Homo sapiens: one gene and its partner. The protein of the gene in region 2 binds, or shares a complex with, the protein of the main gene of each other region. Each region holds a gene or a part of one and is shown on either strand. Other genes may lie near its edges. A codon is read from its position in the direction of its gene.

Evidence for each region.
Region 1: the proteins of NAA30 (region 2) and NAA35 are in contact, whole or in part, in a cryo-EM structure (PDB 7MX2), measured with the Homo sapiens proteins. Residues at the interface, in NP_001011713.2 of Homo sapiens: Glu221, Pro238, Ser240, Tyr242, Thr243, Arg245, Tyr246, His249, Asn250, Lys304 (codon at 1,020), Ile324, Glu334, Asn335, Leu336, Gly337, Val339, Arg340, Asp341, Lys342, Arg343, Phe345, Arg346, Tyr347, Tyr348, Leu349, Leu359, Trp360, Leu361, Arg362; in NP_001308810.1 of Homo sapiens: Leu45, Gly46, Leu48, Leu56, Ala59, Met60, Ala62, Glu64, Lys69, Glu121, Phe313, Pro314, Arg315, Ala444, Leu510, Glu511, Leu512, Glu517, Pro605, Lys606, Phe607, Glu608, Leu609, Asp610, Val614, Arg615, His618, Arg619.

What each region holds. Positions count from the first base shown.
Region 1 is NC_000009.12:86,006,981-86,014,263, reverse strand, and holds part of NAA35 (N-alpha-acetyltransferase 35, NatC auxiliary subunit), read right to left. Parts: intron 6,907-7,283; coding exon 6,800-6,906; intron 4,400-6,799; coding exon 4,333-4,399; intron 1,219-4,332; coding exon 1,120-1,218; intron 546-1,119; coding exon 367-545; intron 1-366. UniProt on the Homo sapiens protein: Auxillary component of the N-terminal acetyltransferase C (NatC) complex which catalyzes acetylation of N-terminal methionine residues. N-terminal acetylation protects proteins from ubiquitination and degradation by the N-end rule pathway.
Region 2 is NC_000014.9:57,393,579-57,400,861, reverse strand, and holds part of NAA30 (N-alpha-acetyltransferase 30), read right to left. Parts: intron 4,111-7,283; coding exon 3,987-4,110; intron 1,035-3,986; coding exon 979-1,034; intron 1-978. UniProt on the Homo sapiens protein: Catalytic subunit of the N-terminal acetyltransferase C (NatC) complex. Catalyzes acetylation of the N-terminal methionine residues of peptides beginning with Met-Leu-Ala and Met-Leu-Gly.

The DNA of each region.
Region 1 (7,283 bases), on a different chromosome or scaffold from region 2:
GAAGACAGACCTCATTCCAATTTGATGTTTAACTGTCAAGTACATCCACAGCTAGTGCCACCAAATTCAGGGCAAAATGTGTTAATTTTTCTCCATAGGAGCAAATAAATGATCTTCAATTAATCCATTTACTTTGGAGTCATTTTTTGTTAATTTTTACATAAACATTTGGAAAAATACACTCATGCAATATTATAGCACTTAAAGATATTCAAGATGATCTAGCTCTAATTTTCAAATTTTTCCAACTGTCCCACAACTAAAGATAAAATATACTAAATGAAAAAGTACCCTGAAATTAACTCTGAATTCTCAGATCTTATCCATTGCACCCACCACCAATTTTAACTCAAACTGTGCTCTTACCAATATATGTAATAGTACTCGTGCATACTGTAGAGTTCCAATTCAAAGCCACTTAGAAGGTACTGTATCATAATGCGAAGGTTATGGTAAAGGACCCAGGTACCTAAACAGGCCAAATGTTGCCTTTGGGGTTCCTGTTTCAACAGCATGGTGTGAAGCGCTGCATCAACCTTCTCTGCCTATTAAAATAAAATGTCATAAACTGTGTTCGTTTTGTTTTCTTAAGGTAATGACAGAACTTTAAAAAAACGTACAGCTAAAAAGAATATGAGCAGAAAATTTAAATCTGACCACCCAAAGAAACATTTTTAAATGCATTTTTAGTTAGGTTTACATTTGAAGTTCTCATTTCACAATGGTTAACATTTACCTAAACATGCCTTAAACCAAATCAATTTTAAAGGACAAAAATACAAATACACTTCAGGTCTTATCAATATTGCTGCTGCACACAAATTAACTTTAAAATTAATGTATTAATATTTTTTATAATGTAAGCTTGTAAAACTATCATTTTATACATATTTCATAATTTATTCCTATTATCAAAGAAATATTTAAGATATCTATCAGTTTGGATTATTGTTCTGTTTCATTTTGTAAACGTTGGTGTAAGAAACTGTTATATTTTAAGTGAAAAGTGGATCATGTTGAAAAATTAGTCAAAATATTGTTCTGAATTATTGTTTTTAAAAATCTGGACAAAGTGTGTGCATCATTTAATTTTAGAAGAGAGGGGAACCTGGCTCTTACCTCATCCTGCAAGGTGGCAAATTCCTCAAGAATATGACCAAGCTTATCTCTCTGTCGAGCCCTGTTATGTCCATGGATCTGAATAAGACTACAGAATGGCTGCAATACACATATAATTTGTCAACTGTAAATATGAAATTTCCTAGTACCAAAGAAACTTAACATTCCAAGTTCACAATCTGGTTTAAGGGAAAAAAATGCTGTGTATGTAAGAATTAGGTCTATGTATACTTTTAATTTTACATAGGTGTTTGTTTTAAGGAACTCAACACCAGAATTTATCAATAACTGGAAAAAAACAGCTTCATGTGAAACTTGCTTTCATATGATAAAAATAGCTTCCTTCGATCTTTAGATATCTTCTTGCAATTTCACAAGGACAATTTCTTTCCTGCTTGAGTCAAAAGCCAATGTTCAAGGCTGACATTCCTGTGCTGCTATAAATATGTCAGAATGCCTAATAATTATTAGCTTAAAAAGAGCTAATAGCCATAAAGCTTGACTATGGTTCTTTATTCCTGCTTTCTCCATAAGGTGTTCTCATCTAAAATACTATGTAACATTCCACTAACCAGGCAAGAGACATGGATTTGTAAGTCTGAGTTAGAAGATTCTCAAAGTATAATACTGTTTTATATTTGCATACTGTGACAGATATTATCTCATTTGATCAGTAACTACCCTGTAAGAGGTCAGAGAAGATATAAGCATTTTACTCTTTAGAGAGTGGAAAGTTGGGTCGGGCACAGTGGCTCACCCCTGTAATCCCAGCACTTTGGGAGGCCAAGGCAGGTGGATCATGAGGTCAACAGTTGTGACTGTTGGTGGTGAAACCCCGTCACTAATAAAAATACAAAAATTAGCTGGGCGTGGTGGCAGGCGCCTGTAATCCCAGCTACATGGGAGGCTGAGGCAGAGAACTTCTTGAACCTGGGAGGCGGAGGTTGCAGTAAGCTGAGATCGCACCACTGCACTCCAGCCTGGGCAACAGAGTGAGACTTCATCTCAAAAAAAAACAAAAAAAAAAGGGAAAGTTTAAAAATTAAAGTGATATGCCTGATAAAATATTAATGATAAAAATGAAATAAATTCTGGTCTTCTATTGTTTTTTCTTTCCCCATACCATGCTGCCTTTCCATTATATATTATTATATATAATATATATTATATATTATATACATTATATATTATATACTATATTATATATTATAGTATATATTATATGATATATAATATATATTAATATATATCATATAATATATATTTATATATTTAAATAAGTTTAAAAGTTGAACTCAAAGTCTAATATACTAAACCTGAGTGTTTGTGATGTACATATATAATGTAATTATATATAATATATATTTAGTAACTGGAAGTAGATATATATATGAAATATATATATATTTAGTAACTGGAAGTAGACCCAAAAAAGCTGCCTGTTGGAGTTCTCTAAAAGAAATACATCTAATTAAATAAAAATGAAGCCGGGTGCGGTGGCTCCTGCCTGTAAGTCCCAGCACTTTGGGAGGCCAAGACGGGCGGATCACTTGAGCTCAGGAGTTTGAGACCAGCCTGGCCAACAGGGTGAACCTGTCTCCACAAAAAATACAAAAAAATTAACCAGGTGTGGTGCCATGAGCCTGTAGTCTCTGCTCCTCCGAATGCTGAGGTGGGAGGATTGCTTGAACCCAGGGGGTAGAGGTTGCAGTGAGCCAAGATCACTGCACTCCAGCCTGGGCAACAGAGGGAGACACTGTCTTAAAATAAATAAATAAATAAATATTTTAAAAAATTAAATAAAAATGAATAATTCAACTCACTACAAGATTTGCATTTTTTCCTAATTACTTGAGATGAAAACAATTTGTGACCTCATTTAAATTAATAATTTTAATTTTTTTTTTGAGACAGTTTTGCTCTTGTTGCCCAGGCTGGAGTGCAATGGCGTGATCTCTACTCACTGCAACCTCTGCCTTCTGGGTTCAAGCAATTCTGCCCCAGCCTCCTGAGTAGCTGGGATTACAGGCATGCACCACTATGCCCAGCTAATTTTGTATTTTCAGTAGAGACAGGGTTTTTCCACGTTGGTCAGGCTGGTCTCGAACTCCCGACCTCAGGTGATCCACCTGCCTCAGCCTCCCAAACTGCTGGGATTACAGGCGTGAGCCACCATGCCCAGCCAATAATTTTAATTTTATTATAACTCAGTTCATTAATATAATACAAAGATAAGTGTACAAGGATGTTAAAAATATTCTAAGGTTAGGCCAGGCGCGGTGGCTCACGCTTGTAATCCCAGCACTTTGGGAGGCCAAGGCGGGTGGATCACGAGGTTAGGAGATCGAGACCATCCTAGCTAACACGTGAAACCCCGTCTCTACTAAAAATACAAAAAAAAAAATTAGCCAGGCATGATGGCGGCGCCTGTAGTCCCAGCTACTTGGGAGGCTGAGGCAGGAGAATGGCGTGAACCCGGGAGGCGGAGCTTGCAGTGAGCCAAGATTGCGCCACTGCACTCCCGCCTGGGCCACAGAGCGAGACACCGTCTTAAAAAAAAAAAAAAAAAAAAAAATTCTAAGGTTAAAAAAAAAAGTAAAGTTTTTATGTCCATTCACAAAAAATTTTGAGGAAGCAACTGCTGTTTTCCCAGTTGAGAGTCATAACATTCCCTATCTATGGTCCCCACAGGCTGCAGTGGGAGGTCATCCAAGGCTGCCTCTGTAGCTAATAACCTATCAGAAGACCTTAGGATATAAAACCATCCACTCAAGTGTTAGGAGGAGACAGTTTTTATTTATTCACTGAAAGTAAACAAGAAATATTAGATGAAAAAAAGCACAGACACTGAAGGAATTGCAGTCCAGCAATTTATTATTATTATTATTATTATTATGGTTATTGAGACAAAGTCTCACTCTGTCCCCCAGGCTGCAGTGCAGTGGCACGATCTTGGTTCACTGAAACCTCCTGGGTTCAAGCGATTTTCCCACCTCAGGCTCCTGAGTAGCTGGCACTACAGGCGTGCGCCACCATACGCTGATTTTTGTATTTTTAGTAGAGATGGGGTTTCACTATGTTGGCCAGGCTGGTCTCAAACTCCTGACCTCAGGTGATCCACCTGCCTCAGCCTCCCAAAGTGAGCCACCGTGCCCGGCCACAGCCCATGATTTTTAAAGTACCCATTATGACAATCCAAATTGTAGCTCTTACCCGAACACAGTGAGTAACAAAGGAGTCGATACAGTCCTTAGCCTGGTGATTATTATATAGGTAGCACCTGCAAGATAACAGTCACATCATTAAAATCTATTCAGCCCAAACAAAAGCAGCAGCAATTACTGCAGATGCTACCAAATGACAGAGAAGGTGAATAAAAGAGAAAATGGAACCGATACCTAAGTTAAAGAATTTCAGTATTAGATTAAGAAATATTTTACAATTATTATGTAATTCACACAATAAATCTGTGATATTTCCAATTCCTATAGGTCTATATTTGAACAATCAGAGTTGGATCCAGTAAGATCAAATTAGCAAAGAGAAAAGGAAAAGTCTAAAGCTCTACTTTTTCATGACCCTACTTCAGTGTCACATATTTCCCTACAATTGATTTCCTCATGGACTGTGCTCCTAATAATAATCACAAAGAAAATACTATACAGGATCCTAATTTTTTCTGTATCCCCACTCCTCACCATTGGTTATAAATCACCTATACCTCCCTTTGGCACGTCATCTCTTCTCACAAAGTGGTTTCCTTTACGGTGTTCCTTATCTCTGATTAACAGAGTCAAGGTCACACAATGGCAAAGACAGTGCACCCAGCACCCAGGAGAAAGAAAAAAGGTCAACACCTGGAACAGGCAGTTGGTGAAATGGGAAGTGCTGAAGGTTCATTACATCTTTAACCCTAAAGCAAGAAAATTACTTGAGATTAAAATAAAGCTTTTAAAAGGCTCTTTAAAAGCTTTAAAAGGCTCTCTCAATCTAAAAATGATTATTTTCAAATTTAAAAATTCAGTAGAAGAAATATGTTCATTAGTAGCCTTGAAGATCAAGAGGAAGAACTTTCTCACAACACAGCAAAAATAACAAGGAGATGACTGTCATGAGGCATAGGTAAGAGAGCTCTAGAAGACCCTAGTATGCTAGGAGCTCTAAAAAAGGAAAAATCAAAACAGATGAAGGTGAAGCAATAAATAAGTAATAACAGGGACAAATGATCTGACTAAAAACCTGAGTCTTTAATGACTGAATTCCAGATAGCACTAGCTGAAAATCACACATGAATATTCTGGTAAAACTTCTGAACTCCTAAAATAAAGAGAAACTCATCAACGCTTCAGAAGAAGTTTCAAATCACTTACAAAGGAAAAGAGGATTCTCATCTATAACACTGAAAGTTTTAAAACAGTGGAACAACTAGACTACCACACAATAAAGTTTTCCATATATACAATTATCATTATTTGTGGTATTTATGTTCCATAAAGTTTCTGAAGATACTAAATTAGACTATTAAATCATTGCTAACATGGGAAATAAAGGGTTAGATTCCTATGAGTCTCTGGTCACAACATTTCCATGCACTGATCAATGAATAACCTTATTTTATGTGTATTTCTGTTTAAGACACCTCATTTAATGGATTAATATACTGTTGATTTATTAACATCAAACTCATGACCCAATAGTGTATACCAAATGTGAACAGGCTGAATTCTGCTTTCAAAAGATTTGAGCTAACAAAAATTACACCACCATGTAAAAGAAACATATTAGGCCGGTGCAGTGGCTCAAGCCTATAATCCCAGCACTTTGGGAGGCCAAGGTGGGCAGATCACTTGAGGTCAGGGTTTGAGACCAGCCTGGCCAACATAGCGAAAGCCCATCTCTACTAAAAATACAAAAATTAGCTGGGCATGGTGACATGCACCCGTGATCTCAGCTACTCAGGAGGCTGATGTGGGAGAATCTCTTGAACCTAGGAGGCGGAGGTTGCAGTAAGCTGAGATGATGCCACTGCACTCCAGCCTGAGCAACATTATGTACATGCAAATACTTCAAAAATCCAAAAATATCAGAAATCTAAAACACCTCTGGTCCAGGGCATTTTGGATAAAAGATACTCAACATTTATTATGAAATATTTGGCAGCCATTACATATAATTAATTAGATCTACCATGAAGTAATTTGTGATAGAAAGCCATCGTGTATCTTTCAGTGGAAAAAGATACACTGTTAGGTGTATCTTTTTTTTTAACAAAGTGTAAGTGCTTTGTTAAGAAATGATGACTCCTTTCTTCCCTTCCCTGTTGGAAAAGCCTGACATTTCTCAGAATGCCAGCTTTCAAATGATGATTCTTTCTGCATGCAATCCTTTCAGCCTCTGATGGCAGCATGTTTTCGGGGCAGTGCCTCTACTACGGCAAAGTTTAAGGACTTACGCTGGAGACAAAAAACTTGGAGTTATCAGAAATTTTGTCAACCTCATAAAAACCTTAGTTTTAATCTAAACAATGTGGCAGAGATCAATTAATTTTAACACTATTAAGTTACTTTACATGGAGATTTGGTCCCAATTTTGATACTTTGGCTATAAAGAAGGAGTACAGAGAAGTTGGGCTTTTAAAGGAGCACATACATACAACTCTAAAATGTCTTACAATACTTACTTGGGGGAAAGCACCGGAGGACTGACAAAAGACCGAAGTGCATCTTTCACCATGTCTTGCATGAGATGAGTTCCAAAGACCTTTTTGTTATCCACCAGGAAAGTGGTCTTAAAACAAATGTTATATATTAGTTACGGTGTCACGCACAGAATTGTCATTAGTGTAAAATCAGTATACTTATAAATGCCACAGACTACGCAAGTGATTAAAATATAAAAAGTTTGTGAAAATTTTTTATAAGTTGCTGTCTCCACAATGAGTGTTACTTATTAATCCTTACTGAAGGTGAATTCTGATGTAGGATAAAAAATGTACAGAAATAAAAACCTCCCAAGAGTAGTAATATTAAAATAGTCAAAATAAACTGACTAATCTGATTATGTCAAATGAGCTAATGTATTAAAAAATGCTTCATAAACTATGAAATAGTAAATGGCTATACATGTTATTTGATAATCCTGTTTACCTCTAATGAATGTTTTGT
Region 2 (7,283 bases):
AAACAGTAGCTATCAATGGAAAGATGGATAAAGAGTTGAAAAGCATGAGAATGGTAGAAGGGACTTTGTTAACAAAAACACATGCATACATATATCATATATGCTGACTGTGTATAAATTTTGTACCAAAACACTCCATTTCTTTTAAGTCACTAAACAAATTATTTATTAAGGTCAACCTTTTAAAAAAACTTACCCAATTTCACATATTTTGAGAATTCTCTAAGGCACATCTGACCTCTAATAATAAAGACAATTGCTACTTCTATTACTCATAAAAGTACTAGTACAACTTTGCTCCTCCTTAGTCACCACTGCTATGTTAAAGACATCTATACTTCTCTAGTTTATACTTGTTCCCTTCCACACTGTGCAACAGTAAATGTTAACATTCCCAATCATCACCAATATTTATCATGCACCTACTATATGTAGAAACACCGTGCAGTAGGATACAAAGAAATATCTGCCATCAGACCTTACAAACAAGCTGAAGAGAGAAAATGCTCTTATGTTAATGCGCAGATAGCTCTACTCTTTAAAAGTGGTTGTCTTCCCCCTAGCCAACATTGTCATTATTTAATTCTGAAAAGATTATTTTCAAGTGTGAAATGTCCTCCATATAGACTGACAGTTTCCCATTGTCAGAAACTAAGGCCAATATGTAAGCAAATTATAACAGAGTCTGTAATAAGAGCTACCTTAAATAACTGATGATAAAGCCTCTGAATACCAAAATTGTGTACTGAAAATGTCTAAGATTCCCCCCACACATTTTGAAGAAATTTTAGCTCCATTTTAAAATTTGTTCTAGGTCAAAAATTCATGTGTTTTTAAATGGAATATAATTTTCCCCACAAGCTGCATTTGTATAGTAACACTGCAATGAAATCTGCAATAAATTATAAAATATTTATTAAAAATACCCAGAAAGAATAATGCCCAGATAAAAAATATTAAACATTTTTAAAGACTTACCTCATCACAGTCTCCCTCAACCATGGCATATATAGCTTTCTTAACCAAGTTAGTACCTAGAATATAGATCTGAGTATTAATGAAGGAAAAATGTATTTCTTAAAGATAACCTAAATTATAATATTCGTAAGCACAGAAATGTCAAATGCTAGTTTCTATCTTGAATCCAGATACACGGATTACCTCAAATTAAATGGGAAAAATTTTAGCTATAAGCTAAGAGAAGCCAACAGAACCTATACATAACAGTATGTTTCCTCTTGAAAGACCTATCTCCCAATATACTCCTTTTTCTCAGACATAATTATTTGCCACAAGCAGGAGTTTGTTCTATTGTGTTTGAAAGCAGTAGGAAAGCGAAAGAGAAAAAGACAAGATATGGTATGGCCAGAACAACGCAGGAACTCCCCGTGAGTTGGCCAGAACTTACTGCATAACCCAAGCTGATCTCACCAAAGATCCTTCAAACTCCCCTGGACACAAGGGACAAGACAACCTCATCAGAACTGCTGTTACCCACAGTAGGTTCCTATAAACTTTACAGTGAGCACGATGAAGTCTGGCAAGTCTGGCACTCCCAATGATGTCAGTGGTGTGTCTGTACATGTCTAGCAAAATGTATCCTAGTTTAGGGTCAAATATAATTGGTATATTAAAAGGGAAAAAATTTGCCAAATCTGATTTTAAGAGCAGACAGACAAATTTTATTTAAAAACTCTTAGGCTGGGCGCAGTGGTTCACGCCTGTAATCCCAGCACTTTGGGAAGCCAAGGCAGGTGGATCACTTGAGGCCAAGAGTTCAAGACCAGCCTGGCCAACATGGTGAAACCCCGTCTCTATTAAAAATACAAAAAATTGGCCAGGCGTGGTGGCTCACGCCTGTAATCCCAGCATTTTGGAGGCTGAGGTCATGGCAAAACCCCATCTCTACTAAAAATACAAAAAACTGGCTGGGTGCAGTGGCTCAGCCTATAATCCCAGCACTTTGGGAGGCCAAGGTGGGCGGATCACCGGAGGTCAGGAGTTCAAGACCAGCCTGGCCAACATGACGAAACCCCATCTCTACTAAAAAATAAAAAATTAGCCAGGCATTACAGGTGGAGGGTGCCTGTAATCCCAGCTACTTGGGAGGCGGAGGCAGGAAAATCACTTGAACACAGGAGGCGGAGGTTGCAGTGAGTCGAGATCATGCCACTGCGCTCCAACCTGGGCGACAGAGTGAGACTATCTCAAAAAAAAATAATAATAAAAAAAATAAATCAGCTGGGTGTGGTGGTGTGTGCCTGTAGTCCCAGGTGCTTGGGAGGCTGAGGCACAAGAATTGCTTGAATCTAGGTGCTAGAGGTTGCAGTGAGCCGGGATCACACCACTGCACTCCAGCCTGGGCAATACAGCGAAGCTCTGTCTCAAAAAATAATAAAATTAAATTAAAAACTCTTAATTTTCAAGCCATGCATACAAGTATGCACGCATTTTATGGCCCAAACAAAGTATGTCTGAAGGCCAGGATGCAACCCAAAAGCCACTGGTTTCTGCCCTCCAAACTAGCCAAACAATTGGCTATAATTTATCATGAGTCCTTATCAGTGCTTTTTAATGCATCAAAGGCTCAAACTTAGTCCATAAAACAAGCCCAATTCATTAAAAATCTTAGTGGAAAGCTGTAACACTGCAATAAAGTTGGCTAAACCTAACATATTAAGTAAACCTATTTATAGTTACTTCTCATGATACCTAGGACCGTGTGTGAGTCTTAGGTTGGACAATAACACTTAATAGTTTTTAAAAAACATGAAAGTGAAAAAACTAATGATTAAATACTGGTACAGGTATTAAACTTTTTTTTATGAATACTCAGCTAAAGCACATCACAAAATTTGACATGCTTAGACAAATGCTTGTCTACCCAATTCTCCACTGTGAACAAAGAGCCACTAGGTCCTAGAGAATAGAAGAGTGGTTTTTTGAAACGGAGTCTTGCTCTGTCACCCAGGCTAGAGTGCAGTGGCACGCTCACTGCAACCTCCACCTCCCAGGTTCAATCAATTCTCCTGCCTCAGCCTCCTGAGTAGCTGGGATGACAGGTGCCCACCACCACTCCCAGCTAATTTTTGTATTTTTAGTAGAGACAGGGTTTCGCCATCTTGCCCAGGCTGGTCTTGAACTCCTGACCTAGTGACTCACCTGCCTTGGCCTCCCAAAATGCTGGGATTATAGGCGTGAGCCACCGCACCCGGCACCTGGTGGCCTATTGAGTTTTATGGCGTTATTTAAATGACAAAAGTTATCTAACCCAGCCATAGAAGAGTGGTTCTTAATCAGGCTTACATCACAGTCACCTAGGGAAGCTTCAGCCCCACCTCTGACAAGACAAACAAGAGTCTCAGGGTGAGGGGCCCAAATACATGTTTTTAAACCACCCACATGATTCTAATGATCATTATAAATCATGAGTGTTAAGATTAACTAAACATGTCAGGAAAAGTAGACCCAACAAAAAATTAAGTTTGGGAATTACAAGAAACAATCAATTCTCATCTCCTGATCTTTCCTGAATTGCAATATATAGTTGATGACTAGCACCAAGTAATGGTAACAATTTGTCCATAATTTTGGCTTGATTGAGGTCCACTTAACCCAAATACAGACAAGTGCTTGAAGGCTGGCATGAAGGACCATCATAATGTAATTATAAATTGCAGTATTTCTTGTGGTACTTAGCATAATGCAAAGCATTTTGAATGTGATTAAAAAAATCTGCAGGTGAAAGCTGATGATCGGCTACTTGTTAAAACGAAAAACTGTCAAACAAAACATTAATAAAGAAAAAATTCATTTTAAGAACTTTTTAAAAATACCATTTTGAAATTAAAAATTAAAACCCGCCTTAATTTTCTTCCCTTAGTTTCTTTCATTTCTACATACTTACATTTAAGTCTTTTATTTCAAAACACAACAAAAATGAAAATAGCTTAGGCATTCTTTCCATAAAATAATATTTTTCTTACCAATGCCATTTCTCCTGTATTTGGAATCCACGGCTAACATGGCTATATAACCTCTGCGGAACATCTTTTTGTGCATATCCAACTTGCAAACGATGGCACCTACACACTCCTCCCCTACCATGGCCTTAAAAATAAACAAACAGTTATGAAGAATACATTGCCATCAGGTACTGCACAATTATCCAGAGAAAACAACAACCAACCATTGGTAAGCATTTTCGACGGGGGAAGATAATGGGAACTCTTGCAAGACAGCAGTCACAGAAGTTTCAGAAATCTAAATCCCCTAACTCCTTTAAATGTTCCAGTGTTAAAATTTCTCAATATTCTTTAGAACATGAATTTTTTATGCTTACTATTAAAGCCTAGGGAAAAAAGACAAGATTCCACAAGGTAAACATTCAAGTACTTTATAAGATTACATATGAGGTGCTTAAAATCACAATTATTTGCAACAAAGACCTAAGGTTCTGGAAGGGGAAATATGCAAAAAAAAAATGATTATAAAGAAAAAGTCTATTCATTAGGACATAAAATATTGTAAAACTTGCCCATCAGCAGAATGTAAATTTAAATATATTCAGTTAAATTTAGTAATAATGGCCAGGTGCTGTGGCTCATGCCTGTAAACCCAGCACTTTGGGAGGCAGGCGCAGGCAGATTGCTTGAGCTCAGGGGTTTGAGATCAGCGTGGGCAACATGGCAAAACCCTGTCTCCACCAAAATTACTTAAATTAGCCAGGTGTGGTGGCATGCACCTGTAGTTCCAGCTACTTGGAAAGCTGAGATAGGAGAATGGCTTGAGCCAGGAAGGGAGAGGCTACAGTGAGCTGAGATCGTGCCACTGCACTCCAGCCTAGGTGACAGAGTGAGACCCCATCTCAATAAAAGAAAAAAATGAAAATAAATTTAATAATAAAGTTTTAGTGAAAGCCAGATATAATACATATTTACACCTGAATGGTAGATTTCGATCAGGAAAAAAAAATTAAAAATTTTCAGAAAAAGCACAGTTTATAAGGTATTGCTTAGACCATACCCAAGAGGTTTTTGTTAATATATGTAAGTGTAGCATAGTCTCATTTTTAGGATACTCCTGATAGTGTGGATAACTGTCATAAAGCTCTCAGAATATTTATAGTTCAAAATCAAAGCTTTATGTTAAAAGCTTTAATTTTACAGAAATTTCTATTTTAATAAAAACGTACAGCTTTCCAGAGTATTAAAAGCTACATGTTAAATTCTAATCATCCCCCATTTTCATTAAGATTTCTAGTGTTACCATTGAAAATGTTTTTCAAAAATTCCAATGCTGATAAAAAGTTCTAGTAACACAGTATTTCTGGTAAATATAAATAGGGCAGTATCTCCAACTGTTTAAATAATGTGTCAGTAAGAAGTCTGTTTTCCATAAATTAACTTTCCAGAAGAAACTATTTCAACAAAAGCAGAAATGAGTCAAAAAACTAATAAGTAATGTCCAATTTATAATTAATACATATTTTAAATTTGTGACTTTTTTAGTCTGTCATTCTGTAAATTGATTAAAAGGCCTTTTTTTAACTGTGGAGAAATCTTTTCAGCAAGATAATTCTAATCCATTTCATGCAAACCTAAACTAGGTCGGAAAAATCCTTTTGAAGGAATATGAAATTCAACAACCCACGCTAATTCATTTCTGGTTTATCACACATTCCAAAACTATTTTGGGTCAATAAACCTCTGAAATTGTTATTTCTAATTTTTTCCCTCACAATACATCAATCTTTTAAAAAAATTTTTTAAACAAAGACCTGAAGTATGCACAAAAATCGCCTCGACCAACTCTGAAAGCTTTTTCTGATTTGAAACTCACTTCAAATATATGTGCGTATATACAGACACGTATAAATACATACACATACATAAAATTATCACAGACCAAATGGTATATTTAAAAGGGCCAGAAAAAATTTTGGCCTGACCTCATAAGCCAGGCTCAGGTGAAATGAAAACCTGTATTAGATTGATGATACAAACCTCAGAATAGCTACACCTTATATAAAACTATCCAAAAATGAGGAAAAATTAAAACCATTAAACACAATACAACTGGACAGTACTTTCAATCTGAACAGGAATTTCAAACAAATCTTTGTCCTTTGAGCATGGAATAAGCAAACAAAATATTAAATTAGTTCATTCTTAAGACCTGATTTCTTCCTAATTTAGAATCTATAGGAGCAAAAATCAAGCTGTATACATCATCTAAAAAGCCCAATATATCATACACCATTACGATGACATTAGTAGTGAAGACCAATGCTGCATTTTTTTTTCCTGATAAACTACTCATGAATATGTGGTACATTTACAGGAATCACTAAATTGCTTGTCAATTTTTCCAAATAAAAGCTCTGCATATACATTTGGAATTCACGCTATTAAATGTATTTTTTCAAGGATGGGAACTGAAAAATCCCCGGCAAGATTAAGACTTAACACTACAAGGCCAAAGGGTTGTCAGTCTATAAAACTATGAAAAAAATAAAGTGAGAGATTCCCAAATTCTAGAACACTACAAATAGAAAACTGGAGGAAGCCAAAAAGTTAAATTTAGAACAAATAAATGGAAGTACTATGTTACATTTGCTGAGAGTAAGTTTAAGAACTTCAAAAAGATACCAACAACTGAAAATGTTACTATGAAAACAGGTAAAGATAAAATGGTTAAGTACAGAGTAACTGAAAGTGTCTCACATTTGTCCTTTTTTTTTTTTTTTTTTACATCTTTTACAATTAGGAAGAATCATAATAAGCTATCATTTTTATTAATCAAGTATTGGCAATTTTGTAAGGTTCAACCCCATATACTCCATTGACCCATTACAGGTTATCCACGGAAAACGGAACATTTTGGAGGTTTTTAATCTCTTGAGATTGATGTAAGGGCAACTGTCCCTTGGTGAAGATAACTTGGTGACACAATAATCTTCACTGAATGGATCAAGGGTATGTCATTTTTCAGGTTCTTGTTTGTTACCATAATGAGAGGCCAGGAGAACTGGGTTCTAGCTTTACCCTTCCGACGGTAAATATCTGGAGATTGAAACATTTTAAGTCACTTTGGTTCTTAACTTCTTTTCAATCAAAAAACAAAACAAAACCTACCCCTCTGTCAGTAAATATCTGGAGATTGAAACATTTTAAGTCACTTTGGTTCTTAACTTTTTTTCAATCAAAAAACAAAACAGAACAAAACCTAAGTTGGGCTAGATTATCTCTAGGATGGCTTTCAGTTCTAAAAGGATATGATTT